2 separate regions of the Homo sapiens genome follow, and region 1 is linked to region 2. Evidence: fine-mapped expression QTL. A gene starts in region 2. The other region holds a variant in brackets. All regions are shown on one strand. Distances are between the middles of the regions. Region 1 overlaps SAMD12 (sterile alpha motif domain containing 12). Region 2 holds the start of SAMD12 (sterile alpha motif domain containing 12).

Region 1 (16,374 bases), 35 kb after region 2:
GCCCTGAGTAGTGCAGATAAACACTTTAGGAGATTAAGGAATACAGGTATATGTTGGAATAGGAGAGAAGGTTTTAATGAGACAAATTGCATCACGAAGGATGCTTGTATATCAACACAGGAATATTGCCAGCCTGTGTTTATTCATTTGTATTACTGAAACCACATGGGCTAAGTTTCTCCCTGCTTTAAACATTTATTGGCTTTCCACCTGCTTAGTGAAAAAAAAATTCAGATGTCTTATTCTAATACCCAAGGCTCCATGCACTCATTGTAATGGGTCCTGTATCATTTTTTTCTCGTAGTCTTTCCTGATTTTCTTGGCTTGGAGGTAAACGTTTCCTTTTTCAATTTTGCAGCCTCTTATTATTACTTTCTCCACAGCTTTTATTTCCACCTCCCCTTACCACTATATCATCTACAACGTAACTATTGGCTAGCCTATTTTTTGGTCAGTTGCATAGAAGTACTCAAACCTTTAGCTTTCGTAGTTTTCAAAATAGGGGACACAGAGTTTCTATAGGTTTTTTTTCTTTTGCTAACATTAAAACTCATGTGCACAGATACATACACACTTAATGTATCTTATCTAATTTCATAAAATGGGGTTAACACCAAAAAATGCAGACAAGACAGTAGAATAATCAAGAACAGACCTTCACACTGAAAACATTTGGCCAATGGAAAGCTTACAGAGCTGTTTTTTTTCTTCATTTTGCTGAGGACCACCGAGAGCTTCCTCACATATTTATCTCCTCTTTAGGAAGACATTTGGGAGCCACTATTTTAGTAAACTGTGAGCTTTACCAGAGCTGATTTATCTCTGAATCCCTGTTCATCTCTTTCTCCCTCAGAGATAATCTGGGGTCTCTAAAAGCTTATAACAAGAAAATAACTGTGATTTGTGACATAGAAGCAATCAGTGTGGGGGACAGGTTATTCAAAGATCTGACAGTTGTCTAAAATAACTAAATAGGAAGTCGCTTTTATAAAACTGTCTAGAATGTGTATGAAAGTCAGAACAGCAGACAGGTTATGAAGGCTGTTTATTAAAGAACTACATTTTTAGAATAGTGGCATTATGTTTATTTTTTTGTAATTCTGGAAGTGTAGATGTGGTTACTTAGATCATTACAAACAATTACACAACTATAGAAAAGAAAATAATTTTCCGACGTAATTTCTGACCTCAAATTCTACTTTTCTCTGTTCTTTTTAAAACTAACATTTACAGAAAAAAACACATTGACTTTAACATTGGGTTCTCCCAGTGTTAAAGGACACTGATAATTTTTCAAACTTGCACTATTCAATAGGACTTTATGTGATAATCGAAATATTTAACAATCTGCACTGTCCGTTATGCTGTACACAGCCACATGTGGCTACAGAAATGTGGCTAGTGCAACTGAGGAACTAAATTTTAAATTAAAAAAACATAATTTAAAATAGTGACCACTGGCTCCTGTATTGGACAGTGTAATTTCAAAAGATGGACCAAGGTACATTCAGAAGTATTGAGCTGTTATTAGTAATACCACCTCTGATGGCATCTTGTCAGTTTTCTTGGTAAATTCAAGATATTTGAAAAGGAACTTGTTTTTTTTAAGGAGTCTTTAGCAACTCGTATACTTATCAATGGCTCCATTGAACTTTGAACTACTTTTAGCCTTTGGACCACTGCAAGTTTTTAAAGTGTTAATTCTCAATTCATGAATTAAGCTCTGTCCATTTCCTTCATCATTATATCTCTCATTTTAGAGAATGTGATTTTTGATTACAAAAAATATATATATGTTATATGCACATATACACATGCATATATAGACATTTGTGAAGATCAAGTGCAACAAGGGATGGAGTTTGTTAAACTTGAATGTTCCTTTAGTCTGAATGTTACTATGAATAGACAGAGTAAGCAAACAAAATTGCCTGCTAATATTATCTTGCCCCACCCTCCCTGAGAAGAGAAATGCTCATGTTCATTAAGTCAAACCAGAACCTCTCATGGCTTTTACATATTTCTGTGGTTTGATAGATACTTCTGTTTCTGCCTGGAATATTCTTTTTTGTTTTTATTTCCAGAACAGAACCTTCAAGAGAATTTTATCTTTTTCTTCCCTGAAGCCTGTGTCTGACCTTTGTAACCTTCTACCTTCCCTAACAATACTAATCACCTGTTTCTGTTAGTGGAGCTGTGTGTACAAGTATATGCAGATGTATGTACAAATGATCTAGATATTTGACTTTTGAAGAAATCAATATCATTAAAATAATATTAATAACAGTAAAGGAAGTAATAATTACAGCAGTGGTTACTGTTTGCTGAGCACTTTCTATGTACCACTTTCTATGTATTGACTAAACACTTTAAATATGCTTTAATTATTCTAAAATATTATAAAGAAGTTATCATTATTCTAATCTTATAGGTAAAACAACACTAACCTAAAGGGAAGTAACTTGACCAAGGCCATACAGCTAGTCAGTGGGGACAGCCAGATTTGACTCCAAAGCCCATTATTTACCTACTAAACAATAATTAAAATGCAGAGGAAAAAAAAATCTTATTCCCCAGAGTAACATGGGAACTATGTGGTATCAGTCTGAATTTCATTTCATTTCCCATTTGCCATTTTTTTTCCTCTATTTGCTTTTCTTTTTTTTGGCATCTCGGCTCACCACAACCTCTGCCTCCCAGGTTCAAGTGATTCTCCTGCCTCAGCCTCCCAAGTAGCTCATATTACAGGCATGCACCACCATGCCCAGCTAATTTTGTATTTTTAGTAGAGACAGGGTTTCTCCATGTTGGTCAGGCTGGTCTCGAACTCCCGACCTCAGGTGATCCACCCACCTTGGCCTCCCAAAGTGCTGTGATTATAGGCATGAGCCACTGCACCCAGCCTTCTATTTGCCATTTTTATGGTGGCCTTAAACATGTTGCTTAGCATCTCTTAGTCTTCCCCTTTTTTTAATAGGTATCACCACCTTCATGTTAGAGGATGAAAAGTCCTTTGAATATGTTAATTCTATACTTTTTCCTTCTTCCCTCCCAAAATACCCAACTGTCATATGTAAAGACTTCCTAAATGATTAGGGTCACCTTTTTTTTCATTAGCTTGGTTTCACAGAGAATGCAGTCAGCTTGTCAGTGGAAACTATGTTATGAGGTGGAGATATTTGCTTTTATTTCTTATTTTTAACCTCATTTCCCAATTTGCTCCCAGGTTTTTTTTTATGTATTTGAAAAGCTGTTCTTTTTTCCTTCTTGTCTTCCTACTGAATTATACTTTAGTTTGTTTTTTCCAGGTAGGTTGCACTTTTTATGTCTATACTGTATTTATCCTTTAAAAGTGCATGGTACTATTTTGTTTATTTAACTGTTATTAAAATTGTTAGCATGTAATATTTGTCTACTGTGATGTAGGAGGGCAATGGGTAAAAGTGGAGGATTTATGTTCATTGAACACATGGTAGGTGTCAAGAATTTTATATGTGTTATTTCTCTTTATCAACACAATAATAATGTGAGTGTAAAAAATAGGGTAATATTAGTATTGCCATTTTACAGAAAAGAGATGATATAACTTGCCCATGCTTGAAAATATATTGTAAGAAAATGGTAGAGCTTGGATTTCAACTAATGTGTGTTGGCCGAGAATAGAGTTAGGAATGAAAACATGTAAATCAAAAGTCATTTATAAACGCTTTGAAAAATAAAATATATCTAGTGCTTGTATTTAATTCTGTTTTGTTGTATTTTTGAGATTAATTTATATACCATAAAAGTACATATTTTAAGTGTTAAGTTCGATGAGTTTTGATGCTTGTATCATGTAACCAAAAGCAAGGTGGAGAACATTTCTGTTCTCCAAGTGCCCTCTACCCTTTCCAATTATCCTTTGTTTCCTCCATTCTGCTCTTGAGCCTATCCACCTGAGCTTTTTATTTTGTTTATTATGTATTTCAGTTATAACATTTCCATTTGGTTATTCTTCATGTCTTATATTTCTCTGCAGAGACTTTAGTTCTTGGAAAAGCTTATTTTTTCCATTTGTGTCAAGTGTAATTGCTTAGTGAAGCATTTTTAGTATAGCTGCTTTAAAATTTTTCTCAGATAGTTCTGATGTCTCTGTCATCTGGATGTTGGTGTCTATGGATTGTCTTTTGTCTTTCAGTTTGGTATCTTCCTGGTTATGAGTGATTTTCTATTGAAACCTGGATATTTACATGTTGTGTTATGAGACTCTAGATTTTATTTAAACCTTTTATTTCAGCTAGCTTTTTAAAATGCCAGTCTGGCCAGGGAAAAGAGGAGATACCACTTACTTACTGCCAGGTAGAGTTATAAATCCAGGTTCCCCGCTCAATCTCAGTTGATACCTGAAAGGTAGGACTTCTTCCTTATGGCTGGGTAATAGTGAAAGTCCTGTCTACCAGACTTCCTCTGACACAATCGCAGGAAGGAAGGCTCACCTCTCATAAACTGGTAGAGGTGAAAATCCAGCCTTGCCATATCATCTCAGCTGACATTTTGGAGATGAGGAGGTACCCTCTTTACCAATTGACAGAGATGGAAACCTGGACTCCCTACTTGGCCTTCTATGGCATTCTCCTGGGAGTATTGGGGTACCTAAGTGCAGCCTGGTGAGGGTGTGAGTCTAGGCTTTACAATCAGCCTTTACTGATGTGGTGGTTGGGTCACATTTCTTTTCTGTAATGTTTGAGTAAAGCAGTTATTATCTACATGTTTCCTACCTTGCTAGGCTGTCTCTTTCCTGGTCCTTTGGTTACAGAGAGCAAGCTCTTGTATATTATTTTTTTTCTGTGCCCATAGCTCTTCCCAAGTTGCAGGTTTCTTAGTTCTAAGTCTGGGATATACGAGGCAAAAGGAAGCTGAGAGAACTCACCACCAGATTATTCAAGGTCCTTCAAGGTCTTTAGATTGTCTTCCTTCTCTTTACCATTCAGTTGTCTTATGTTTGTCTCATATATAATGTCCATCATTTTTAACTTTACTAAGTGGGATGAATGGAGAAAAGTATGTCTATTTCTTCTTCCCTGAAGGATGCAAGAGGAACTACTTTATTTAAAAAAATAAAGAGTAGATGATATGTAGTAAAGGAAAGTAATATTTCATAAAAACGTGGTTCAATTCATATACATAAAGATGATTGGTCATGGATTCACAATGTGAAATCTCTTTCTGTAGTATCATAGTTAAAAATATTTTTAAAGTCACCAGTGTAGACCACTTATCAATCTCTCAAAGTGATACCTGAATCCCTTGTCTAAAGCATCATAGAACTTCTGCATGTGTCTGCCCTTGTATTCTCCTCATGAATGAGAAGAGTTAATATTCATGCCTTGGACATCTTCTAAAGTCTGTCCCCACTTTACTGATTCTGCAATACCTAAGTTAAGCATTATTTTAATTTCCATTGTTTTAGGTTGTCTATGTATCAAGTGTAGGACAAGTGAATATTTGATGTGGTGATTAAACTTAAGTAGTCTTTGGAAAACTAGATTCCATTATAGCGAACTGTTTTTACAAAGATGAAATTGTTTCTGTAGACAAGTAAACCAGAGTGAGTGAGCATCGTGGGGCCCAGAGAAGACCATGTCCTTACACTGCTGCATGTGGTTTGAACGTCTGGCTGTGCTGAACAGTCATGTAGGTCCAGCTTGGGCAGCCACATCATCATTGTCAGGCTACTGTGGGCAGATTTGTGAGGACAATAGCACGAGTTTTGTGGGTTCAGTCTTTCAGTTTCCATTTAGTTTCTTCCCCTGTCTTTCTCATTGATGTAATAACTTCTTTTTTTCCAGTCTCTTCTTGCATGGAATAGGGGAGCCATCTATTATTGGCCACTTAGACTTGCTGGGGGTGGACATGTTCAGCTTTTAATGCTGCTGAATTACCCTTCTGGACATTTATATTTTACCCCTGTTTTTGATAGTGGGAAAAAGACCTCTATAGAAATTTTAAGCTTCAGCAAGTATATGTAATATCACATTTAGCTGACCAAGGAGAAATTTGGAAATCATATTCTGTCTCCTCATTGCCTGACCCAAGTGATAAAATTCAGCATAATTTAGCTCATTTAAATTAGCTGGGAGTGGGGAAGTACAGAATAAGTCAGAGGCTAGTCCTGCAAAGACCCATAAGTTCTTCCTTGATGTTGCTAGAGTAAAGGAGGCTGGGGTTATCAGGTCCCAGTGCCCTTCAGGTTATGGTTATACTCTACCCTAGAGCAAGGGCCAGCAAACTTTTTCTGCAAAGAGCCAGCCAGTAAATATTTCAGTCTTTGCAGGCCACGTGGTCTGTGTCACAGTTACTCACTGCTGCCATTGTAGCACAAAAGCAGACATGAACACTATATAGATAAATGAGCATGCCTCATTTATTATTTTCCAGTAACACTTTATGGACATTGAACTTTGAATTTCATGTAATTCCCATGTGTCATAAAATGTTTTTTTCCAATCACTTTAAAATGTAAAAACTATTTTGGGGTCACAAACCACATGAAAACAAACAGCAGGATGGATTTGGTCAATGGGCCATAGTTTGCTGACCCCTGTCCTAGAAGATATCTGCTGGGCAGTTTCCTTTGCCCAAGGAGATGTTGTGCTCCCTTTCTATTAGCTAAACCAAGCCTGTGTTCCTGAGACATACTTTCTGGTACAGTTGTTGTATTTTTATGTCAACACATTAATGACCAGACACACAGGAACACATTCCCATCCCCATTCATTGATGCAAAAGTTTTCATGAATGATCTGGGCACTTTTCTGGGTACCTTAGGACCCCAGCTAAGCAAGAAAGTTTCATCCTCAGGTCTTCAGAGTGTCATCTGGATTGATTACCTCTGATGTCAGAGTTTACTGATAATAACATGTATTCCTAAGGTATATTCCTAAGGTATATCTGTTATTCATACTATACTTATTCAGCTTTCTAAGTCATAATAGGAGCTGTGAAACCCAGACCAGAACATTTTACTAGGATTTCTGTTTTCTCTTTTAAAAAGAAGGGCTAAACAATCCTATGTTATTGGTTAAAATGGAAATGTGTCATTTTGCAGGGGTTCATCTGAAAGTTGTAGAAGACACGACTAACCATGGCTTAATAAGCAGAGAATTACTTTTCTCACAGACTCTCAAGTCCAGAGGAGAATAATGAAGAACAAAGTTCGAGTAGCCCAATGATGTCAGAGCCAATGTGACTATTATTCTCTTGACTTTTTTTCATCTTTGTAGCCCTGTGGTCACAGCATGTACTGTAGCAGTTCTAGATATCACATATGCCTTTAAGGCAGAGACAAAGGGGAAGAGTGATGTTAAGATCTTTCCTCTTTTGTCAGTTCCAGAACTGTTTGTTTCCCATCAAACTTCTGCTTATGTGCCCTAGGGAGGAATCTGTCATCAACCTCACTTGTAGCTGCAAGGGAAGCTGTGAAATTTGCTATTGGCGTTGTAGCCATACTTCAGTAGGTGGCAAAAATGAGAGTGTTGAGAATGTGTAGCCCATCAGAAGTGTCTGCTACAAAGAGTTACAGACTTTTTGTGATGTTCACATTACTTCTTGAGGGTAGTCTCTGCTGAATTCGAATCCAGAATACAATAAATGAAGCACCTATAATAATTAATATAATGAATTAAACATATTGGAGAGTGTTATGTGTATATTATATTAGGGAAGTGTTAAAGAAGGACCATCTCCTTCAGGAACTTTAGCTAGAAGCAAGACATAAACATGAAATTTGAAATAACCTATCTCAATTCTAATAACTAATGGTGGGGATTGGAGTATATTTGTTTTTAAGGTCACTGATTCATTTAGCAACATTTATTGAGGGTTGAGTATGTACAACTGTTTAGGCTTTGCAGGTGCAAAGATGAATAAGATAGTCTCTGCTTTGCAGATGGCAGTCAAATAAATCAGTAGTTTCAGGATAGCTTTATGGTTTTGTGATTTAACATTTTTGGTGAATTACACAATTAGATTGGAAGCAACTTTTATTTGCTTTTTTGAAAAATATATGTTACGCATCAGTACCGAATGGCAGTGAGTAGGATTCAATCAGTATCTTTCCATCATATCTATGCTCAGTCTATAAACAATGATTGAGCACCTACTGTAAGGTAGTTATGTGGCTACACACTACATTTGTAAAGCTCAGCAAGAAGTAGTCACTTCTTCTGGGGGCTCCTAGTCATAGATTTAGCAGACCTGTCAATAAATATTTGCAACACATGGTACATACACACACATACAGATCATATAAGAAAAAGAGGTGGCTGGGCAATGTAGCTGATGCTTGTGTTCCCAGGAATTTGGGAGGTCGAGGTGGGCAGGTCGCTTGAGCCCAGGAGTCTAAGACCAGCCTGGGCAACATGGCAGAACCCTGCCTCTACAAATAATACAAAAATTAGCTGGGTGTGGTGGTGCACACCTGTAGTCACAGCTACTTGGGTGGCTGAGGTGGAAGGAACACTTGAGCCTGCGAGGTTGAGACTGCAGTGAGCCATGATCACACCACTGCACTCCGGCCTGGGCAACAGAGCAAAACACTGTCTCAAAAAAAAAAAAAAAAGAAAGAAAAAGAGGAGAAGTGTTTTTATTGCTTAAGAGGATATACTGGGTGCAAGACTAGTTAAAGCTTTACAGTAGAAAAAAGAGAAAAATTAATATTTCCTGAAGCAGTTATCTATGCAAATAAGGGAAAGGAAGAGCATATGATGTAAAAGGTCAGTTCTGTCAAGGTAGAGAAGCACAACACATTTCAGGGCACTGCTTGCAGTTTCTATGTGGGGGTTCCTTGGTTGGGGAGCCAGCTCATTCTGAGGGGCAACTGGGAGTGTTTTCACAGTGTCTCTATTCAAGGCAAAACTCAGAATAGAGGAACATTAAAATTTAATAAGTCTCCATCCCTTGTTTCATGACAGAGAGTGGTGTGGGTGGAGATTGGAAGAACTGGAAGTTGGGTGGCTTCCTGGAGACTAAGATGCACTTGTTCTTGGGAATGACAGCAGATGCCAATGCACCCCTCAACTCTTCTAGCATCACTGTGAGCAGAGAAAACAAGGCCTGGCACTTCATTCCAG[G/A]TAGCCTGTTACTGTCACCTAAATCACATGAGAATGGCATCCCTCAGCCACTAAGCCTTGGAGAGCCCAGGCTCATTTCCAGCAATCAGCAATCCAAGCCCTGCTTCTGCTGATTAGGACAAGACCTGTTTTGGAGAACATTTCCTTTCCAGGAAAATTCTGAAGTAACCTCATACTTTTGAGCTATAATTTTTACCATTTTATTAAAAAATAAAATAACATTCTAGATGAAAATCACGATGATATTATTCATAAATAAACTCTCAAACCTTTGAATAAAAATATCTTTGGAACCTCTCTTTCCATTTATGGAGGTATTAGGGAAGTTAAAATGAGAGGGAGTGGGGTTTTTAAGTTTTTATTTTTTTATTGTGACAAAATATACATTAAATTCATCATTTTAATCATTTTTAATTATATGGTTCAGTGGCATTAGGCACATTCACATTATTGTATAACCATCATCACCATCCATCTCCAGAGAGTTTTCATCATCCCAAAGTGAAACACTATACCCATAACTTACCAATAACTTCCCATTTTCTCTCCCACAGCCCATGTGTAGCCATTGTTCTATTTTCTTTCTCTGTAGATTTGATTAACTCATATAAGTGAATCGTCCAATAGTTGTCCATTTTTGTCTGGCATATTTCACTTTAGCATAATGTCTTCAAGGTTCATGCATGTTGTAGTATGGATGAGAATGCCATTCCTTTTATAGGCGCAAAATATTTCATTATATGTATCACATTGTGTTTATCCATTCATGCATCCACAGGCATTTGGTTTATGCCTGTTTGACTGTTATGAATAATGCTGCTATGTACATGAGCATACAAATATCTTGAGTTCCTGCTTTCAGTTTGTGTGTGTGTGTTTGTGTGTGTGTGTGTGTGTGTGTGTGTGTGTGTATACCTACAAGTTGAATTGTTGGATTAAATGACAATTCTGTGTTTAATTTTTTGAGGAACCACCATACTGTTTCCCACAGGGGGTGTATCACTTGACATTCCCACCAGCAATGCACCTGGTTTTCAATTTTCTGGGGAAGTAGGTTTTTACACATGAAAAAAACATGGTGCCTTCAAAAGGGCATTTCAAAACAATGCTAAAATATGTGCATTTGCAGTGAAACATTTCTCTCTTAAATTTTTTTAAGAGCAATGTTTGTGAAATTCATTTTGGTTTTTAACTCTTCATTTTGAAGAATTCAATATTAATGACATTCAAATTAAGTAAAAGTGACAGCAGCAGCACTTCCCATAAAGACCACAAGCTGCCTGCGGTGTCAGTTCAATGACTAGGAATCCGTCAGGCACAGGAGTGGTGGTGAAGATTAGGGAAACGAGAAGAGGGTCTCGAAGCCGACCAGTGAGCTGCCAAGCCCATTAAATTAAGTAAATAACTTTAGGGAAAACAAGAAAGGGCAGTGATGAACACAAAAAAGAGAAATCAAAAGGGGACACCTTTGACACAAGCAAAGAGATGGAGGTCATGCATTGTAAGAGGCCATTGGAGAGTTGTTTGATTTGTAAATATTAGGGACATGAAATTTCAGGGAAAACAAAGCAAAGTCTATCAAAAATGGTTTTAAATAAATAATTCTAAGTACAAAAACCTAAATCAACTACTGGGGAGTTTGCAGTGGAGGAAGGAACAGCTATGGAGGATTAAAATATTTGTGTGAAAAATAAGCCTACGTGTGTGGAAAGTCAAAAAACTGTATTCTGCCTCCTGTTTATAGATACCTTACATTTTGAATGCCAAGTATTTACTAGCAGAGAAAAGCTTTCTTCTGATTTAAGGCATGATTGCGTAAAGGAAGGGAATTGCTGGTTCATTCTGCAGCTGAACAAGTGTTTCCTTAATGTCTCTTATGTGCCAGGTCCTGGACTCAGGAATGGAAGTCATGGAGATGAAAAACAGATGGTACCTGCCTTCCAGGAGCTTACAGTTGTGCTGGGCAAGGCAGACAGATCAATTACATGGACATTCTTAGTACTGTGAGGAAAATGAAGCACCAGGGGACTGTGCATGAGGGAGCATAGGGAATGGTTTCTTGCTGTGGTAGCCAGAGACTCCTAAAAGGCTTTCTGAAGAAGAGGTCTGAGCTGACATGAGGTGAATAGGACTTAGCCTCCCAAAGAGCAGGAGATAGGATTAGGTTGGAGTAGGACCAGCATTTCTAGGTGGTGGGACCACCGTGATCAGAGGTGAAGGAAGTATAAGAGTCAAATTTGGTGGGGAGGTGATAGGGGAAGAGAATAGGAGGTCTACCAGCAGTTCAGTGGTATTCCTAGGTCATGAATTTCAAGGTAGGAAGCAGCAGAGGATAAAGCTAGACAGAAAGATCAAAGCTACACATTTTTCTTTTCTTCATTAATGTCTGAATCCATCCCATGCCAATCCCCCATCTCCCTACACAAGCACACCTTTTAAAAATAATCACAACTTTGATGTATTTAATTGAATATTCATTGTAAGTAGGCCAGTCTTTGGAGATGGAGAAGCTGATTGATAATAACAGTAATTAGCTTCAAGCTCTCAGAGGCTTTGGCTACTAAGTTCTCTTTCCAGCACTGCCTAAAGTGGGCATTGTTGTTGGTTCCCCAGCATCCATTCTGCTACAGCCCTGTTGAGTAGCAGCAGTGTGGTTTGGGGAATTGACCTGAGCTGGTCAGTTGGTTTAAGGGTAATCCTATTTCCACTGCCAGCATGTTAGTTCAGTAATAGGCATGTAATTCACTCCTGGCCAATGAGAAAAGAGAATAAAATTTGAAGGAGGTTTGGGAGAAAAAGCCATAGTCAACCAAGCCCTTTCTGCTTCAAGATGAAAACTAAAGCTTGTAGTCTAGATGCTACAAAGGGACCCAGGTTCAGGATAAAGTCGGTGCTATGGATAATAGAATGGAGAAAGAAAAAAAAAAAAGCACAGTGCTTGATGAAACTACCGAGATGCAAATCAGCTAATTCTGAACTTGTGCCATCACTGGACTTCTTGTTCTGTCAGCTAATAATTTTCCATACCATTTAATCTAGTTTGGATTTTTCCATGTGTAATATGAAATCGTGTATACTAAATGGGCCATGATTTTTGTGACTTTTCTGTACACACCAGTATAGTATGCCCTTTTGTGAACCTAACCCATTTGAGCCTCATTTTCCTTATCTGTGAAATGAACATAGTTATGTCTCAGAGTTTTTCATGAAGATCATTTGAGATTCAGAACAAAGCCCAAAAGGGAGGTATGAACTAATACATGTTAAGTGCCCAGAGTGTACCACTAAATAGGAAGCTTAGAGACTAGGAGAAGAGAAATTCATAAATAATGTCCACATAAAGTGGTAGAAATAAGATCACGTGCATTTGGACCTTTGTGCAATCAGTTTGTTTTTTTAAAGAAATATCATTGAATATTTGAGCAGTATGTTAGGTGTAGAGCTGTTGGATTTGCTGATAGATGAAAGGAAAGTGATGGATCATAGAGTGATGTTAAGGATGTCTCATCAGTTTCTGTGTAACTTGCGAAGACTGAAACAGGCAAATTGTTTCTGCTGCAGTTTTACTTGTCTGACATTCATAAGAAAGGTGTGTCTAGGCTGCAGTTAATATTTGGGAGTCACCAGAATGTTGATTGGGAACATAGGAATAGATGATATCTATTAAGGAGGGAGTGGATAGTGGGAGGAAAACACCTCACTTCTTTTGGGAAGCCTGCCTCATCCCTCAGGTCTAAAGTACTCATCAGAATCCTGGCAAAGATGAGGCAAAGAGGAAACTATGGCCTAAATGGAGTGCCGAATAGAGAGTTGGACTTTTTGAGTCACGGAAGCTGGCTGGAGGGGAAGAATGCTGAGAAAGGGGAAAGCCTAAAGATGTTGGGTAAAAGATTATTGATGAAGTGGAGACCTGGGGAAGATGGGGGTATTAAGTATCTGGCCTTAACTTCTCTGTGAATAAAGGAAAGGGGATGAGGATAGGAGTTTACCTGAATTTGAAGAGTTGGGGTAACAGGGAAATGAAATAATTTACTACCAGAGAAGTCAAAACACACATACCTGCCATCTGCACACAGACATACATGGTGGTTTATGTAGTGGAATGCATGGATCTTACAACATTCATTGCTATTTATTTGATAATACAGGGTACATAGGGGGGCTCAGTAAGCGTTTGTTAGATGAATAAATATCCCCAGAAAATCAGCTTTAGGTTTTATTTGTGGAATATCTATGTTACAGGGCATGGAGAGAGTAAGATGCAAAAAACTGGAAGCCACTGGGCTTGATGCCCTTGAGCCCTCCACTCTGGCTTTTTTTTCTTTGCCATGTAGAAGTGACAGTTCTGTTTGAAAATCACCAGTCCTTTTGTTTGCCTCCTTTATTACATTGTGAGTTCTTTGAAGGTAACATCTGTCATATGTAAATCCATGTTTCCAGGATCTAACCCAGGGATGGCACATAGTAAGTGCTTAAGAAATATTGCTTAGATGAATGCAAGAGAGTGGACTTGAGTGGATGCCTAAATAATAAAGAAGGTCCAGAAGAAGAGAGGGTGAGCACTTTTCAGATGGAGGTAGAGATACAAACTAAACTGCAGGGTTGAAATAATTGCATGATTGCGTGTGTGGGAAGCAGTAACAACGTTGCCTGATTTGGTATTCTCATCTGTAACATTTGGATTTGTAAGTTGCTGAAAGTCAAACAACTTGGAATTGAGGGCTTCTGGATTTGTACCTAAATCTTGCTGATTTCCAAGCTCAAGGTTTCCCACTATACCGTGCTCCCTCCTCACCATATTATTTATCGTAGTAATCACACCACCTCTCGACTCATAGATGCCTCGTTTTTTTCCTACTTAGGCTTGATGAATATTTTCTGTCATGGACACCTTCTTTATGTGGTTTGTTTTCTGAGTTCTATTTGTTGCTTTTTCCTAGCTCTCCACTGTGGTTTGAATCCACGGGGTATTGATCACCCTGCCCATGCTGAAGGTATTAAACTGCAAATTGAAGGTGAAGGTGTGGAATCTCAATCCATTAAAAATAAAAATTTCCAGAAGGTGCCTGACCAGAAAGGAACTCCCAAGCGACTGCAGGCAGAAGCTGAGACGGCTAAGGTGCGTAATATTCCAGTTAATTACGGAGATTTGAAAGCTGCAGCCTTTATATGTTGTAGTCCAGCTACAGAGAAGAGCTGATAGTGCTTTCACTAATTACCATTGTATCTGTGGTCAAATGAGCACTGTATCTTGCGGATAAATAATTATAAATGAAAATATTAACTGTATTCCCTTTGGAATAAAATTGAAACACGTTTGTGGCCAGTCTCATAGTGTGAGGCTCTGAGGTTATAGAGAAGAATGCCCTGGACTTGAAGCTAAAAGATTCACCTGCCAGGCTCAGACTTACCACTCTATGGTGTTGGGAAAGTCATGTGACTTTCTGAGTTGCAGATTCTTCATCTACACAAGGGAATCATAAAATGACTTCTCTCATCAGGTTGAGCAGATCAAACGATTGTATGCTTGTGGAAGCATTTTATAAAAGCCCCAGTACTGCATGAGTATGAGAGGCTTGTGCTTACAGGTATTGTTAATTAGTAATAGCTGATATTTTATTAAATATGCATGTATCTCCCAGGTACTGTTTGAAGGACTCTTGATCTATTGACTTATTGTGTCCCTGTAACAATCTTGTGAGGTAGACAATAGTAAATAGAACCCTAAGTAGTGAAAGAGAAAATTATTTTATTCTGCTGTAGTATGCTTAGTTCTTTTCAGTCTTTAACCTAAACATAGGTAACAGAGAACTGACAAAATAGGCATTGGTGAAGAAGTACAGAAACTTGGATTCTGTGGGGTAGGTAATTTTTTAGTAAGGACAGCCTCTTCTAAAGGCTCCCTACAATGGGACTGGCACTATCTGGATATTTGTCTGAAATCAGTGCAGATGTTCATGTTGGGGGCACAGTGTTGTTGAAGATACTCATATTAGTTTTCCTCTTGGACACTGAGGAAATTAATCTTCATATAGTTTTGTTTCTCCCTTTGTGTATTCCCTGCAAGACAATTTCCTTTCAAATGTTGGTTGAGCAAATGAATGTATGCATGCCTTGGAAAGCAAATGTTGTAAGCACCTAAGAAAAATCTTAAGGAAAAAGGTCACCTTACTGTTGTACAATAACCACCTCCCTTCTCCTCCAAATAATGTCTTCCAAAATCAGATGTGAATTTTTTGCTTTATGTACAGTTTGGAATAATTACTGTTATTGCTTCTCTTCTTTAGTGTGGATAATTAAAAATTGTTGACATTAAGTATGTGTGTGTGGTAGGGAATGGGGAATGATTACCAAGATATATATTGCAGGCATTTTACGCTAGACATTTTAGCTAAGAGAAATGGCAACTCATAGGATATTTACTGGCTGATGATCAATGAAGTTTGGTTTGTGAACAACATTGGAAATGAGTGAACCCTGTTAAGAAAGCTAAACCTGATCAATACATGGGCATCTTGAAAGAGCCAGGAAAAAACGCCTTAAGGGTCCTCTTTAGGAAGATAAACAGACTTTCTATGAGTGAGATATTTTCCAAAGGATGCCTAAAATATTAAAAATTAGAGTAGAGAGAAAAGTTAACTATTGATATTTGTCTGATTTAAATTCAACTTTAAACATTTCTAGTGTGTATCTCCTATATTTGTAAAGATATTGGTAATATACAAAATTTGACTCAAATCTGATATGATTTTATTTCTGATTATCTTGAATATGTGAATTGTGAATCCTGAAATTTTGTGTCTTTGCCTCTGAAGCATTTTATAGTTCCTTTGCTGAAAACATACTTCAATGAGTGTGGATGTGTATAATGTGCCTTTCTTCTGGAACAAACTAATATTGGAAACCAGATTCATTTGAGTTTATGCAAATCATCTACAGTGAACACCCATCCCCAACAAATGAGGTTGAAAGGAGATTCTGGGTTTTTCACACTGCCATCATATTTAGGGGTGAACAGACTAGAGGCTTTAGTAAAGAAAGCTTAGACAAAGAATTTGTCCAGTTGTTTAAATGGAGGACGAGGAAACAACAGTGGCTGCTGGGGGAACAGTTAAAATTACTACAGTGTGATTACTGTGGATGCCAGCAGCATGACTGACCCTGAAGCTTTTGTACCTTAGACAACATGAACTTGTTTTGTGCAGGTACAAACACATTTACATTTTCCCTTCCATTGCATTTAGAGGGCTGGTAGAGTTGTAAG
Region 2 (16,374 bases):
CCTCTAAGCATCCATAGAAGGGTTCTACAAGGAAGGCAGAGATGACCTTAACAAATACACCACCACATCACCGAAGATACCTAACAGATACTACTCTATTAGCATTTAAAAGTGTGGGGCAAAAATTAGCCAATAATTTTCCCCAGCCCCACAAGGTTCATATTTCCAGCTTTTAGGATCCCTGAATAAAACTAGACCTTGCAGAGATACCTTTTGAATGCCACATTTTTCACTAAAAGTTATCACAGGCTAGAAAAGGCCAGTCAAAGGTGAAACCCAGGGCTGCACCATGCTAATACTTGCCTTATCTCACAAGGCACATCTTAGGTGTGCTGTGTCCTTTCTCTCCCAGCTGCGATCTAAATTATCTCCTAGGTCCCATTTTTCTTCTACTTCTTTGAGTTTTCAGACATTAGGATTGAGCCCTAGATCATGACTTCAGGTTTATGAGGACAGTCATCTGTCATCAGCACCTGCAGAGCCTTTTGTCTTTCTCTGACTGCATGAATTCCTCAGACTCTTACTTTCTGACAACTGATGGACTTTTCTCATCTCTAACCACAAAAGCCCAACTCCATTCTTTCTTTGTGCAACACCACAACATGTGGGGTTTTTATTCTCCCACAGGGAGAACAAGAAAGCATATGGCCTCCTAAAAAGAAAAGGTTCTTTATGTTTTTGGTCCAGCCTCTTTCCTTTATAAATTTCCCAGTCTCAGGTATGTCTTTATTAGCAGCATGAGAATGAACTAATACACCTTGACTTTTGGATTGGCCCTATGACTTGATTCAACACATGATGTAAGAGAAGTGAAAGTGCTGCAGTTCTGAGACAGGGCTTAAAAGCCTTGCATATTTCCTTTTTCTCTCTTGCTCCTCTGCCGTTAGCTGCTGCCCCTTTAGCCTGAGGCAGAGTTCCCCAGCTTACTCAAAAACCTGCAGCGAGGAGCAGAGCTGCCCCAGCCTCCTTGACTGAAAGCTCAGCCACCAAGCCAAACTGAGCCCAGTGGAACAGAAATCTCTCCCCACCACATCCTCTAAAAACAAAAACAAAAATCAAACCACCAATGAAGAACCTTGGCCTGAACCTGGGTTCTAGACATTGTTCTGCTATGATGTGATCCTGGCAAACTTTTTTGGTTTTCTGCCTCAACTGTGAAATGATAGGACTTAGAGTAACTTGCCTCTAAGTCCTTTCTGAACAGATTCTAGGTTAGAAAAAAAAAGCCTACTTCTAAGAGTATAAAACATTAACACAAACACAAACAAAATACTAACCTGCAGTTTAATTGGGAAAAATAAACACATTTATGATTAGGTAGTTTACTCATGTGCTCCTTCAGTCAGACAGTACTTACAGATACATAATACATGTATTAAGTATGTATTGTTGGGCCAGATACAGTGCTAGTGGTTGGAAGATCAAAGGGGAGCAAAATCAGAGTCCATTCTTAATCCGATGGAATTAGTGGGGATACTGACACTATTTAAATGAAAATAATAAATATATTCCTACAAACTGATATGAGTGTTGTGGAGAAAACTAACCCAGAATGGGAGCCTAAGAAAAACTTTGCTAGGGCTTGTAGGCTTTAACCAAAGAGTAAAGGGATGCAATCAAATGACTTCAAATTGGAGTGAGATGATTAGATTTGGGTCATACCATTCTGTTTGCTGGTGGAGAGAAGCCACACTGGGGAAGAATTGTATGCAGATAGACTAATTAGTAAACTACTGAAATTAGTAGTGGTCTTAGTGAGAGAAAACCGTAGCTTAGACTTGAAGAGTACTGAAGATGAATATCTTCTAGCTAAAATCTTCCATTAAGATCACTGTACTTTAAGCTCATTCAAGAAAAGTTTCACTCTTAGAGAGTTCTTTTGCCCAAATAAGGTGGGATTTTGTTGAAATTCCCGATATCAAATGAGATTCTTCCTGTCAGAGTGCATTTCAATATATTTTTGGAAGCCAATAGGGTAAGTGGCACTTTTACACCTGATGAGAAAGTACATTGAGATGGAATGAAAAAAGTACTGAATGCAGAAGTCTCAAGTGTTGAATTCAGGCTCTGTCTGGGTGTATAAATTTGGGCTAATCATCCATCCTTGCCCAGCCTCTGTTTCATACCTATAAAATGAAGTAAATACTATCCACTGACAGCCATTGTAAAGATAAAATGCAATAATGTATGTGAAGGCTCACTGTACCCTATATAATGATTAAAAATATAAAGTTTATTAGGTAATTATTAACAGAGGAACAGAAGGGAAGGGAAAGGACTGGTCAAATAACTACAGTAAGCGGTCAGCTTTAGCATCTCTGCCTAGTAAAGATTTCTGGTCATTTTGGAAGTAGTAGTAAAAGGGAGCCCATCACACCTTAAGTTTTTAAACATCTGGCATAGAATAGTTCAGTTGTGAAAATAAGTTGCATCTCTTCTAGTGTTCTCTTGTGCTGATGTGTACCAATGACAAGTAATTCCAGATGACCATTCCTATGCTTTTACACACAGTTTACAATTTCCCCTGGTTGGGGAAGTAGGGGCAACTCTGCTCAGAAGAGGTGCTGCAAATTTATTAGGTTGGTGCAAAAGTAATGGCAGTTTTTACCATTAAAAAAAAAAATGGCAAAAACTGCAATTATTTTTACACCAACCTAATACTTCAGGGTTGGAAATCCAGAACACAGAAAGTTTGTATGCAGTCAGCCACTAGAGCCTACAATAATCCCACACTCTTTTCTATCAACAAAACCTATCCAAAAAGGGACAAGTGTCCAGGACACTGCTCTTCCATGGCACAGCCCTGTTTTCTTGCCTGTCAGAGGAGGCTCTGCATTGATCAAGTTAAGTTCATTCAGTGGCTTAACTACAAGTCGGACTGGGCAGACTTACTCCACACTTGGCAAATATCCTGAGGCCCTTGCTACTGCTTAACTGAATTATATCCATGTTCTTTGGGAATGGCCTCTCAGGCTTCCATGGATGATCAAAAGAGCAAACACTTATTGGGCATCCATTATGTGCCAGGACAGCGCACAACACTATAGATACTCTCTCAGTCACTGCTGAGCCCCAAACTGTGAGCTAGGTAATGTATACATTACACAATTAATAGCATTACAATACATGTGGGAAAACCAAGGCACAGAAATGTCAAAGAACTTTGCTAATAACCAACATCGAGTAAATGAGAGTCAGGATTACAATCTAGTTCTGTATGTCTACGAAACTTGAGTACTGAAGCCAAATATTCAGATAACCAGTTAATATAAAGGTAGACAGATTCTGCTCAAATTTTGAAGACATAATTTAAGTCTGATTTTGAAAGTATAGTTTAGACGAACGATGGTATAGAATATCACCAACTTATCAACAAACAGATAACACACAATGCGATTTAATTATGCACAATGTGATTTAAGCAAAAACAACTAGGCTTTTGCTTAAATCATGTTCCCTGAAATATGCTTACTTCCTCCAATGGAAGCCTGATATAACTTGAATGGTTGGCACTTTATTCATGACTCAAGGATTAGAGTTAGTATTTTTTATCTTAATTACAAAAAAATTATTTTTTTCCTCTCAGTTCCTCCTGTCAAAAATTTTACTTTTTAGGGTTTGAATCCTTTTGGTTAGGTTTAGAAGATCTCCCTGAACAGAATAGAAACATAATCTATTTACTTTTTGAGATTTATGAATGTTTTCTGTAGAGGCTTGTGAATATAGCAACCGAGTTAGAACAATAAATACAGTAAAGTACTTATATGTACTATTTTAAATCTTAGAATCCAGTGAAATCTGTAGCCTCATCTCAATATTTCTTTTTTTATTTAATTCACTATAAGGTAATGGGCTTTTCCTTCCCTTTCTGTGCTCTCTGATATATTCAGAAATTTTTGAATCATTCTAAATATCACAATTTCTGATATTAAAATATTTTAAACCCTTCATTTTATTAGTAATGACAATTCCTATTTGGCCAAGTGCTTATGAATTCAGATTTGTGATCACGTAATCAGTATTGAAATCTAGATGGAGTAACATCACAGAGTTCTACACTTAGGTAGACCTCAATCCCCTTGCTACAATTCATGTTTTGGAGACATGGGGCAAATTACTTAAATTCACTGAGCTTCAATTTCCTCATCTGGAAAATAGTGATATCTGACAATATTGTAGTGATTAAAGGAGATGATGTATGTCAAGATGCTTAGACAGAGCTTGGCACTTGTAATTTCCCAACAAATGCTACTTATAACAAGGATAAAAAAATAGTAGTAATAAATTATCTATTGAGTACTTACTATGTAACCACAATTATGACCAAGAATCTGGAAGATATGAAGCATAAGACTCAGTTCCAGCACTCGAAGTGCTTATATACTATAAGGAACAAACAATAGCATCATAATGAACACAGAATTTGGCTTATGAGAGGTATGGGATGAGGTCTGGACTTTGCCCCTTGCTAAAATTGGGTATATCTGTTAGGAACTGTACTTGGCTGCTGATAAAAAAGACCAAAAATAAGTCATGATTGCAGTCTGTGAAAGATACTAAAGCAGAAGCTAAGCTGTGCCCAAATTACTGAGCCACAGAAACTGAAGTAATACATGGGTATTGTTGTAAACCACTAAATATTGGGATAATTTGTTAACAGCAATCGATTAATACATGTGGCTCATCATGTTGTTGTATACAATTGTAATTCCTTCATTTGCATTACTTTATAGGAGGGTTTGGAAAGCTTTTTTTCTGCAAAGGATCAGGTAGGAAATATTTGAGGCTTTGTAGGACAAGAGGCAAAATTGAGGATATTATGTAAGTATGTCTTTATAATTTCCAGGCTTTGCAAATTATACTTTTTTTGTTTTTTTTCCAACCATTTAAAAATGTAAAAATCACACCTAGCTGGTGAGTTATAAGAAATAAATGGTGAGCCATATTTGGCTCATTGGTCTTAGTTTGTTGACCCCTGCTATATGGAATTATTTGGTTATACCACAGTTCATCTCTCCAATCTGTGTTGATAAATATTTGAGTTGTTTTCCATTTGGGAACATTAAAATAATGCAGCCACAAACATTCTTGCACATGTCTTTTGGAGAACATCTGTATGCATATTTGTTTGGTGTAAACCTAGGAGTAGAACTTCTGGGTCACAGGATAAGCATATATTCAGCTGAATATTTCAGATGGTTTTCCAAAGTGGTTTTGTGAATTTGCACACCACCAGCAATATATAAATCTTTATTGCTTCACAATCTTGCCAACGGTTGGTATTTTGTGTCTTTATCTTTCAAACATTCTAGAGATAAATGTAATTTTTTTTTAGTACTTCCCAGGTGATTCTAATGTTCAGCCAGAATTGAAAACCTCTGCGCAACTATTGTTTATCCCTTATTAGGCAGAACCACATGAAATTGTTCTATTTGTAGGTTTTAAAAATGGTCAAACATTGGCTATTTCATATGGTAGAAACTAACATCTCCTTCACATTTTATTTATACTAAAAATAAAACTCGTCTAGAATGCACATCACTGGGAAAAATATTAAAGATGAGCTAAGATGAAGTTTTAAAATTAACCACAGATTTCAATGACTTTTATATTTTTATATCACCCAGATATTTAAAAGCTTGGAACCAGACCAATGGTTTTCACCCTCAATGAAGACTGGAATCACCTGTGGGTTTTTAAAACCTGAGTGCCTCTACCCAAACCCCCATAAGCTCTGATTCTGTGAGACTAAGATAAAAGCTTAGGAATATATATTTGTAGAAGGCTGATGCACAGCCAAGGTTGAGAACCATTGATACTACCTGTCCTATGGCTTTCTTTCACATTCATTCAATCTCAGAAAATACTTAACACTTTGGTGATTTTATATACATAAAGTAGTGAAGCACCTGGATTTCAGTTCTTTCCAGAGTTTAGAATGCTTGGCTGTGTATTAGGTCGGAAAATTCTTTTTCCCATGGAAATTATGTCTCACTGAATGGGTCTCTCTCTACTGTACCTAAAAGAGAGGCTTAGGTTTGACTTGTACACAGCTCCATGGACTCAGAATTAAAGTATCAACAAGAGCATTTAATGGTTACACGCAGGTATTTTTTAAAGTACCTATACACATATTATTATTATATATTACCCAGTAGGGGAACTAAGCATGTAATTAGTGACCAGAACAACAGGTGTGCATGTATACACTGAGAAACGAAATTGTTTTGAAAAACATTTTTTTTTTTTTGCTGATGACCAAGACACACAAAAATGTCTAAGTAGTCATCATGGGAAGAATCCGATTTTTGTACTTCCTCATTTTACAGAGATTAACATTATATATGAGTGACTGGGTGGATGTGGTACCAAATACATTTGTAAACTGAAGGCCTTTAAAAGTCAATCCAGTCTTGAGCCAGATTTATTCCCGAGGCTATTCCCTTACCCCTTCCAGCCACAACTGTATCCGTATTTTCACACGCAGGAAAAAATGTTTAGAAACTTAATTTTTACGAGCTGTCGAATTGTATTGCTATCCACGTGATTCCCATTATCATGTCTGCTTATAGCATCCCCAGCACCTACAGCTAGGACATAGGTTCAGAAGTTGAAGGAACCTGATTCTCAGGCACTGTTAATTATTAGGCCCTATCACAGGCTGTCAACAGGCTCCAAGTCTAGGCAAATTGAAAGCCTCCTATCCTGGAAGCCAGACAGGCTTTCATCTGACCTCCTCCGGTGCAATCCTGGCTCCCAGACTTTGTTCCTAACAACCCCTTGGGGACGTTGCCTATTGGGGTTTAAGCCACTCCTCCTCCCCTACACCCCCATGCCAAGTATTTAGCCACCTGAACCACCCTGTAGGATAAGACAACTGTATCAACCGTCGGAATTCCCCCACAAAACCCATACATCTCAGGGTGCGAAGGAACAAGTTTCAACCTCACCCTGGGCAGCGTTCTCTGGCCCAGGTGGAGAACCACACAGGAGGACAGTGGTCCTGCTCTCCCTACTAAATGGTGGTTCAGGAGGCCAGGGGGCGGGGCGGTACCGGCGGCAGAGGCCCACGGACGAGCTCGCAGGAGCTCATCACACAGCTGACCGTCACCTGCCCACCTCACCACACCTGCTAGGTGCCAAACCCCTTGTAATGGACAGGGAAGGGCTCAATCACGGGTCCCTACTCTTAGCAGCGAACCTATCTCAGCGCACGGCCTCCTGGGAGATGTAGTCCAGACCGCTTCCCGGGAACCCCCCCCCCCTCCCCCCCCGCCCCGCCACAACCAGGCATCCCTGGTCCCCTCACAACTTCCCCAGGAGAGATTGCTCGGCCTGGCCAGCTGAAGCTGGAGTTGCTCTCCAAGTGTCGGGGCCAGGCGGCACTCCGCGGAGGAGTCGGGGTGCTCTCCCCAGTCCGAGCGAAGGGAGGGAACTACACTTCCCAGGACGCCCTGCGCGCGCCGAGCCGGGAGCCGGCTGCCTCGCTTTGCGTGACCGCGGCAGGTTGGTCCTGGAGCAGATAAGCGCAGAATATTTAGGCGAAAGCGAGAGGAAGGGGGGAGCGCGGGGCAGGAGGAGTACCTCGGCCAAGAAAATTATGCATGCGTTAGGGAAGCTCTGAGAGAATGGCTGTGGAAGGTAAGGGACGCTTGGGGCATTTTTAAGCTCCCTCTTAACCCGCGCACCCCAAGGCACACATCCCCGATGAAGCTTGGCGATCGTGGGGAGGCGAGGAAAGGGGGTGGCGGAGAGCGGGCCCCTTCCTCCTCCACCTCTTGGCACTCACCTGCGCCGCCAAGGCCAGTAGGCGCTTTAATTCAGTTGCTTTGGAGAGACGTGAAGGGTAGGTGCGTAGGACTTTGAGGTAGGAGGTGTGGAGACGAGTGTCCCTGATGCGAAACGATATCCTGGAAATGGGGGGAAAGCCGGAGGATCCGGCATGAGGTTTTGGCCCCGAGATGCCCTTTTTCCCTGCCCCCTCCCTCCGGAGCAGGCTGGGTGGCCCCGGGGCTGGGGATGCTTGGTTGGCCCCCCTCACGTGGGAGAGGTCCCCAGCCCAGGTGCGTCATCCGGAAGCTTGGACTGGGATTGGGTCGAGGGCCCTTCGTCCTATGCACCCAGCAGCGGCGGCCGCAGATGTACCCAGAGGGTAGAGGTGTCCCTACACCTGTCTCTGCTTATACAGCCAGCGCCCCGGGCTTAGCAAAGTTTACAGACATGAAATGTAATCAGCCAGGGAAAAGAAGTGCAACAACCTCTTCGATTTGGGTGAATCCTTTTCTTTGAAGATCACTTTCTTCTTACAGTCTTGAGCTTCGGCTTTGCAGTTTTGACCGTAAAGTCCTGCCTCCCTTGAACTTCCTGGTTGAAAGCAGGGTCAGGCTGTTCGTGAGGGATCCTGAGTTTTTCATTTCAGGTTATCTTACCTTGGAACACAAACTTCCTTGTTTAGGTAGTTTCTGAAGAAGAAAAAAAAACTGTGGACCGGAAGGGTTTGTGATGTCACATTAGAGGTCAAGCTGTGCCTGAATGATGAAATGATTGTGGGACGAAATGGGAGCCTACATTCACCTGCAGAATTTTGGTTTCTGAGTGCAGTCAGGTCAGAGGGCGTACTGAAGTAGGAAGAGGAGGGCTTGCCTGCCAGCTGCTTCAGGCGCCTTGCCAAGGGGAAATCAGCCTATTCCTTGTAGGCTAGAGACGAGAAGGCCACGAGGCTGGCTTGCTGCTCCCTCTCCTCCCTGCCCCAGGAGAAAGAAATTGAACTAATCTGACTCTTGCTCCCCTTATAACGACTGTCTTAACAACCTGAAGTAGCAACAACCCAGCTCCTATACTCAGCACCCATAAACTCGGGAAACTCTTGCCTTTGGGCTATCTCAGGTTCAGAGATCCACAGCCAGCCACTTCCAGCTTTCCTAACTTTATTAACAAAAATGAAATCCTCTCTCTCTCTTACAATCAAGATTTTTCTAGGTTTTCTTTTCTGTGCAAATGTACCAGTAGGGTGAGAATCTTTTTTTTTTTTTTTTTTTTTTTTTTGCATCGTTATGCTTGATAGTCAAGACTTCAGATGCCAAAGAACAAAACAAAAGCCGAGATAAAGTTCATCTTGAGCTTGAGACCAAGGATATGTTGACCTACTCCTTAAGTGTCCGTTCTATGTCACCCATCAGGTGACACTGATTATGATCTCTCGTCTTCACCACTCCTGTGTCCCCAAGACAGGGACACTCCTCTTTGTTGCTAGTCCACACTGTTCTCGAAAACAATTTCTTGTTCCCTGTAAGAAGTATAAATTTGTCTTATTTCTTGCGTGATGGGTGATTACACCAGTGAAGCCAGACTTTACAAAAACAAGAACTTAGGAAGGAAGTACATGTGGACTATGGAGAGTTTATTTTCTAGTGACTTGGTTAAAGTACCTGTCTAGTAAACAGGAGATCCTGAGTTTGAATCACAATGAGGTCTCAAAGAATGAAGGAAGTATTTTAAACTTTAACTTCAAATATGATTCCTATCTTTGGTCTTTGCAAAGATATCAGCCTGGACCAGTCCCTTCCTGGTTACTCCTACTTGGTCTTTCAAGCCTTTGGGAAAATGTCACTTCCTCTGGGAAACTGTCCCAGCCCTCCTTTTTCTTCTGCCTTCTCAGCACTCTTTCCAGTCTATGGGAAGTGCCTCCTGCTCACATTTATCTTAATACTTATCATACTTAATCTGCCTCTTACTAGACTCTAACCCCCTTGGGGGTTAGACTTGGACTTTATATTCCTAGCTCATAGCACAGTACTTTGCCCATAATAGGTACTCAATGCTCATGAATTGCATGGCAAATATATTCATGGAGGTTTTGTAACTGGTTCTATAAGGGTACATGGGGCTTTCTTGGAAGCCTAAATGTGATACAATAAGGGATTTCTGACAGATTTGAGGATGGGAGATTTTTTTTTTTTTTTTTTTGAGACAGAGTCTTGCTCTGTCGCCCAGGCTAGAGTACAGTGGCGCGGTCTCAGCTCACTGCAAGCTCCGCCTCCCAGGTTCACGCCATTCTCCTGCCTCAGCCTCCCAAGTAGCTGGGACTATAGGCACCCGCCACCATGCCTGGCTAATTTTTTTGGTATTTTTAGTAGAGACGGAGTTTCACCATGTTAGCCAGGATGGTCTCGATCTCCTGACCTCGTGATCTGCCCACCTCGAAGTGCCCTTCTCTTCAGTCTTTTGTCTTGATGCCCAAAAAATCTTTTAGAACAGTTTACCTCTACTGCTGGGTGACATTGTCCCTGGACACATTTGGGATATGTAGGAACTGCTGCTGGGGGCTGCTGTTGGTATTTTGTGCCCATGGCCACAGATAATAAATGTCCTGCAGCGCATGGCCATCCCGTATAACGAGGCCAAGCCATGGCCAAGTAATGATCAGTTTACCCAACTTATTGAGAAATGCTGCTTCAGAGAATAAGGAGTTTTGCCAGAGGAACTGGAATAGAAAATACAGTTCGAATTGCTTAACATTCTAAGCTTTAGTCTCCACATCTGGAAAAAATGGGCTCACTACTGCTTTCCTCCTGGGAACATTGTGAGGATTTTTTTTTTTTTTTTTGAGACGGAGTCTTGCTCTGTCGCCCAGGCTGGAATGCAGTGGCGCGATCTCGGCTCACTGCAAGCTCCGCCTCCCGGGTTCACGCCATTTTCCTGCCTCAGCCTCCCGAGTAGCTGGGCTACAGGTGCCTGCTACCACGCCCGGCTGATTTTTTTGTACTTTTAGTAGAGACAGAGTTTCACCATGTTAGCCAGGATGGTCTCCATCTCCTAACCTCGTGATCCGCCCGCCTCGGCCTCCCAAAGTGCTGGGATTACAGGAGTGAGCCACCGTGCCCTGCTCATTGTGAGGATTAAATAAAGGAGAGGGCTTCTAGAAGGGTGTCTGGAACCTGCATCCTAAGTAAATATCACTTGTACTCTCATCCCTTCTCTTAGGAAAAGCTATACTATTTGGCATGTGTTTTATATCCTGAATTTTCACTTATTCATGCCAGCCAGTTTTTCTAATTAGTAACAAATTAGAAGGTTTTTTACTATGTGTAACTTTTTCTTAAGTAAACTTGAATTTGTAAAAGTGTTACTAGCAAGTAGTTCACTCATTCACTTTGCTGAACCTGCAGCCGTGTGTTTAAGATGAAAAAGAGGTGCCCTTTGTTTATTGTTTTGTAACTACCCTGTGTTATGTTTTCTTCTTAGTTTATTTGCAACATCCTATTTATGTCTCCTAGTCTGCTTGTGACCCATGCTTTGCATTTATGGGCAGCTTACAGGTATGCTTTCCCGCCACAGAACAGGGTACGACCTTATGGTCTGCATTTGGATTAGGATTATACTGGCATACATTGCCTTTTTTTAAAAAAAAAAAAAACAAAAACAATGTCTTGTGAAATAATTTAGCAGGACTGGGGACTAGGACCTCTTGGAAGGAGGTAGCAGGGACCCCAAACTAATCCATTCTCTATGGACAGACTGTGTATAGACGGTTAAACCTATTGATGTTTTCTAACAGAAATGGGTTGCAATATTATTCAGGGAGAAGAAAAATGTGGATTCATTGGGGACAGTGTCGTATTCATCTTTGTATTCATCTCTGTATTCCAGGGATGGCGCCTGGCACTTAGGAGGCCCACAGTCATTGTTTCATGAATGACATATAAATGCACGAGTCTCCAGAGCTAGAGAAGGATTTTTTTTTTACCCCTCATCCCCAATTCCTTTTCTTGCTTTGTCCTCAGATATTTATGAAAAAAATAGGGAGGATGGACATTGTACATGGTAATTTCTATTCCAGGTCTAACAGAATAGCACCTCTCATGTGGCAGAAAAATGATTTCCAATATTCAGCACTCACCTCTCTCCCCAAGAAAAACATGTCAAATGCAAGACTGTGTGCTCTTAATGACATCTATATTAAGGGATCTGAATTTTCCATCATAAATGAACATGGTAGCTTACCAAATATCTTCTGATAAGTCATTCAGTGCTCAGGTTCTATGTTTTTTCTCCTGTAGAAGAGTGAAGAAACTACACATCACCAAAATATTGTAAGGCTAAGTAATAATAACGGTGACTGGGAAAATGGGAAATGAGATAGCGTCAAACGTTTGTGACAAATAGAAGCAGTCACGGTAAACACTGGGCTTTGCAGCCCCATAAATGATGACTTTGTACCCAACTTGAACTCAGAACTGCATCACAGAGAGTAAAAGGAGTCACATGGGAGATAAAAACATCATTTTTATCACAAGCTTATAGTGGGTTATTTTTTTCTGACTTTGGGTTGGAGGGTAAGTGGGCTTGCTAATATTGTATGCAGCAGTGAACTTACCCGTCATAGGGATGCCTCCCTCTATGCTAGTGGTCCTTAACCTTTTTGGCACCAGGGATCAGATTCATGGAAGACAGTTTTTCCATGGGGGATGGTTTTGGGATGAAACTGTTCCACCTCAGATCATCAGGCATTAGATTCTCATAAGGCATGTGCAACCTAGATCTCTCACATGTGCAGTTCACAGTAGGGTTTGCACTCCTCTGAGAATCTAATGCCTCTGTTGATCTGACAGGAGGTAGAGCTTGGGTGGTAATGCTTGCTTGCTCACTGCTCACATCCTGCTGTGCGGTGTGGTTCCTAATAGGCCACGGACTGATACCAGTTCACAACCCAGGGGTTGGGGACCCCTGCTCTATACCACTGGCAGCTGGAGAGCAGAGAGAACATGGGCTCCTGCAGCAGGCAGGTGGGACCCAAAGGAAGAGGTGGGGAACCTATGCTTTGTGCCTTTTCACAGACTTGCTCATCAGAGAGTTGATTTCTCCTCTCCTGAGGAGGACCCAGAGGGTAAAGAGGGAGACCAGAAGTGTAATTCTGATGGATTTCCCTTCATAGAACACAAGAAGCTCTGTCCTGCCTCTGTGTGATTCTCTTGGTGCTAGCTCACCTATGCTTTCCTAACTACCTTTTCTTGTTGGGAACATCATTATGAATGTACCTCTTCTACTGGTGGTACTTTCTACGGCAAGGACTATGTCTCATGTCTCATCCTTGAAGCTTGAATGAATGAATGGAGACAAATGAAGGAATGGGTGGGTTTATGACTGCTTTTGATTCCCACAGTAACTCCCATACACATTTAATGAGAACTTCCAACTGTGTTCCTCTACAGAGCAGATGTCATGAAAGCAGTGAGACGATGGACAAGTTTCCCTCATAGGTACTTATCCCTGCAGCAGCTTCATTGTGTGATTGTTAAACTAATTACTCCCTGATTCTCTCCCATTCACTTATTCCTGAGGATCTTTTTTTCTTATTTTTATTATGTTCTCTATACCACCAGATCTGACTTTCCTGCACCAGAGTTTCTATTGATCACTTTGTTTTAGGAAGGAGAATGACGGCTAGAAGTTCGTCATTGAAAATTCCTTCCAGTGACTGTGTGAACAAGAATGGGGCCTCCAACCTAGTTTGAAACTTGCTGTGGCAGCAGTTCCTGCCACCCCCATCTCTTTTGTAGCCCTCTTAGCTAGTTCGGACAGGGTTTCAGTCTAATTGTACTGTTGTATTTCCTAGCCCAGCCCTTCCTAATTCCTTTTATCCCACCCTTTCTTTCTCATCTGCCTTGCTGTTTTCTCACGCCTGAATGAAGAAACAAGCGCTGGTGCTGAGAAGCAGAAACTGGGAAACCTTTGCTGGTGTAGCTGTGTTCTGTAATGCTGAGTCACAGTGGATGACGTGGTGACATATTACAAGGGTAGGGGGAGCTGGGGATCTGAAGCCCATGCTTGAACTCTGGCGAGTGAGTGTCAGCTGTTGTGCATTTAATTATGAGAAAGGGGATATTGCAAATGCTCATTCACAGGCATTCAAGCAGATGGTGCCTTTCTGTTGATAAGCAGTAGAGTAGCACCCATGTACAAGGAACTCTACGAGATGTGGTGGGGAGTGTAGTAAGAAAGGGAGCTTAGCCCACTCTGACCCCTGCCAGTCCCGGCCCTCCCCTGCAGCCTCCACTGGGGGAAGGAGACAAGAGAAGCAGATTAGACTGAATGATATAAGTGCTAAATAAAAGTGCAAGCACCATGACGTGGGAGGTCTGAGAACAAATGGAGCATTTAGTTCTGAGCTGGGTGGGGATAGCCTAACGAAAGGGGTAGCATTGAGTGAGCTTTTGAGTAGGATTTTGATGGGTGGGAATCGGGGAAAGGGCACAAAACTGAGTAGTGTATGTATAATGCATGCTTCTTAATGGATTTCCCCCATGTCCCAGGGATGTGGTAGTTTAGCCCTTTATAGGAAGGAAAACGAATGGGGAGCCTCCTAACTCATGTCTGGTAAAATCCTTTTCCTAAGGGCTCTATTATCTGCCTGGCCAAACCTGCAGCATTCCCCACAGTCCAGTTGGATCTTGCATATGGTCCTTTTGAAACCACAAGAGCAAGCGTGGAAAGCTGCTCTCTTGTAAATCAAGTTGATTCCTCCCCAGTTTTCTGAAGTGGAATGTAGCAGCACCACCCGCTCTGAGCTGGCTCATGAGAGCAAACTTGGCTATATTTAGTCTGATTTTTCTAAAGTGTGGGTGCAAGAATCTGCTTGTACAGCTTGCCTCCCGCGTGAAGAGCAGGACAGGACAGCAGCTGTTGGGTGACAGCGGTGGCCCACCTCACTGCCTTCAGCAGCCTCCTTCCCAGAGTGCTGGGGCTATTGGCAAGTTTTGTTCCTTTGCTCCTCCCTGCTACCCTCCCTTGCTGCCGCAGAAGGTATTTGTGTTCTATTCGGCAAATCCTGACTCTCAAGTGATTTGACAGATGTTTGTGGATTGGCTATGGGGTGTGGCTCTCAGAGCTACAGCTGCCCTTGAGACCTGGGGTACAGAATGGGCTCAGGCCTGCTCATGGCTTTTCACTGCCTCCACAGTGCAGGACTCTCTCCTAGGGGATCATAGCAGTCACAGTGTTCTTAAATGTGGAAGATCTGCAACCAGGCTAGATGTGAACCCCAGCTCCGCACAGGACCTGCTGAGTGCCTGGGTAATTCACTCAACAGCTCTGAGACTCCTTTGCCTGTCTATCAAATGAGAATATTAATGGTAATGACCTCATAGGCATGTTGAGAAGGTTAAATTAGTATAAGGGAAGCTCTTAAGACCTGGTTTGTGGTAGGTGCTCAGTAAACACTGAGTAAGATGTTAGACAAGATGATAGTGATGATGCTGTCTGTTTCACCTTGTCTTCCTGCCATACTTATGAAAGCATCTAAGACATTTTTATAGCATTTTTATAGCCCCATGATATTACAGTCTGGCATAATAGTGTGTGCTCAATGAGGGAATGTAGGTTATCAGAGTTGGAAGAACACCAACAAAGTGTAATTGATAAAATACAAGGCATCCTCAGCTTAAAATGTATTATTTGGTGTATTCATGATCTGACTCTGTGCAGTCATGAGGCAACAGAGGGAAGTAAATGTTATGATTATATTCACTAAAGACTCATCACTTACATAATTTTTCTCTACCACAAATTTACTTGCCACTTAACACCAGCAATTTTGTAGGCTGGCCTCTCTCTGATTGTCTGATCATCACCCATCCATACAATATGTATGCAAAGTAAGTTGATTACAAAGAGAAATTTCAGATCTTGCAAAAGAGAAAATAATTCATGGACTCCATGAAAGTGACATTGGGAAACTGCTGGAATCATATGCCATGGCCCAATTAAGATCTGAGTTAAGCCAAATAACCATTAAAGAAGAGAAAATTGACTAAGATATTGACTTGATAGGCATTAAAGAGAAATATTAGGACCTTTTAGGGATTAAGGGAAGTCTTTAGTGAAAAGAGATGCTCTAAATATTTTGGGGAAAAATGATCTCCTTTATAATCATGCTATGAAAAGTCAAGTATGATATGAAAGATATTTTGTCCTGCTGACATAAGTCCTGTTGCTGAAGTTATATAACAAATAAAAAATGGATTTTTTTGTTCTAAGAATTAACACATACTTTCAATTATAACCTAAATTTGGTTAAATATCAGATAAACTTCTCCCTTTCTCTTTTCAAGATAAAGTACCATTGAAACTCACTATTAATTTTGAAACTCTAGCCCCCATTTCAAGTGTATTCCTTTTCTTCCTTTCTCACTCTTTCATGATTTTTTATTGGTATTTAAATTGGTTTTAAACTTTAGGTTGTTTAGATACAATTTACACACAGTAAAATCAGCTATTGTAGTTCTTTAAGTTTTGGTAAATGTATAGTCTTGTAACCACTACCACCATCAAGATACAGAGCAATTTGAACAACTTGTAAAGTTTCCTTGTGCCCCT

Evidence for each region.
Region 1: its variant is fine-mapped to the expression of SAMD12 in atrial appendage (GTEx, PIP 0.91).

The regions. Positions count from the first base shown.
Region 1 is chr8:118,578,570-118,594,943 of GRCh38, reverse strand. It overlaps SAMD12 (sterile alpha motif domain containing 12), which reads left to right. Exons shown (of 4, transcript NM_207506.3): 2 at 14,051-14,229. Among named protein-coding and RNA genes, the nearest start is that of SAMD12-AS1, 34 kb to the left of the region's middle. The variant G/A (reference allele first, on the strand shown) is at 9,111.
Region 2 is chr8:118,613,071-118,629,444 of GRCh38, reverse strand. SAMD12 (sterile alpha motif domain containing 12) reads left to right here and starts at 7,482. Exons shown (of 4, transcript NM_207506.3): 1 at 7,482-7,641. The coding sequence starts at 7,629. It overlaps SAMD12-AS1 (SAMD12 antisense RNA 1), which reads right to left and starts at 8,444. Exons shown (of 5, transcript NR_038210.1): 1 at 8,259-8,444; 2 at 7,790-7,910. RefSeq lists a silencer at 7,140-7,289 and enhancers at 7,390-7,589, 8,200-8,409, 8,440-8,489.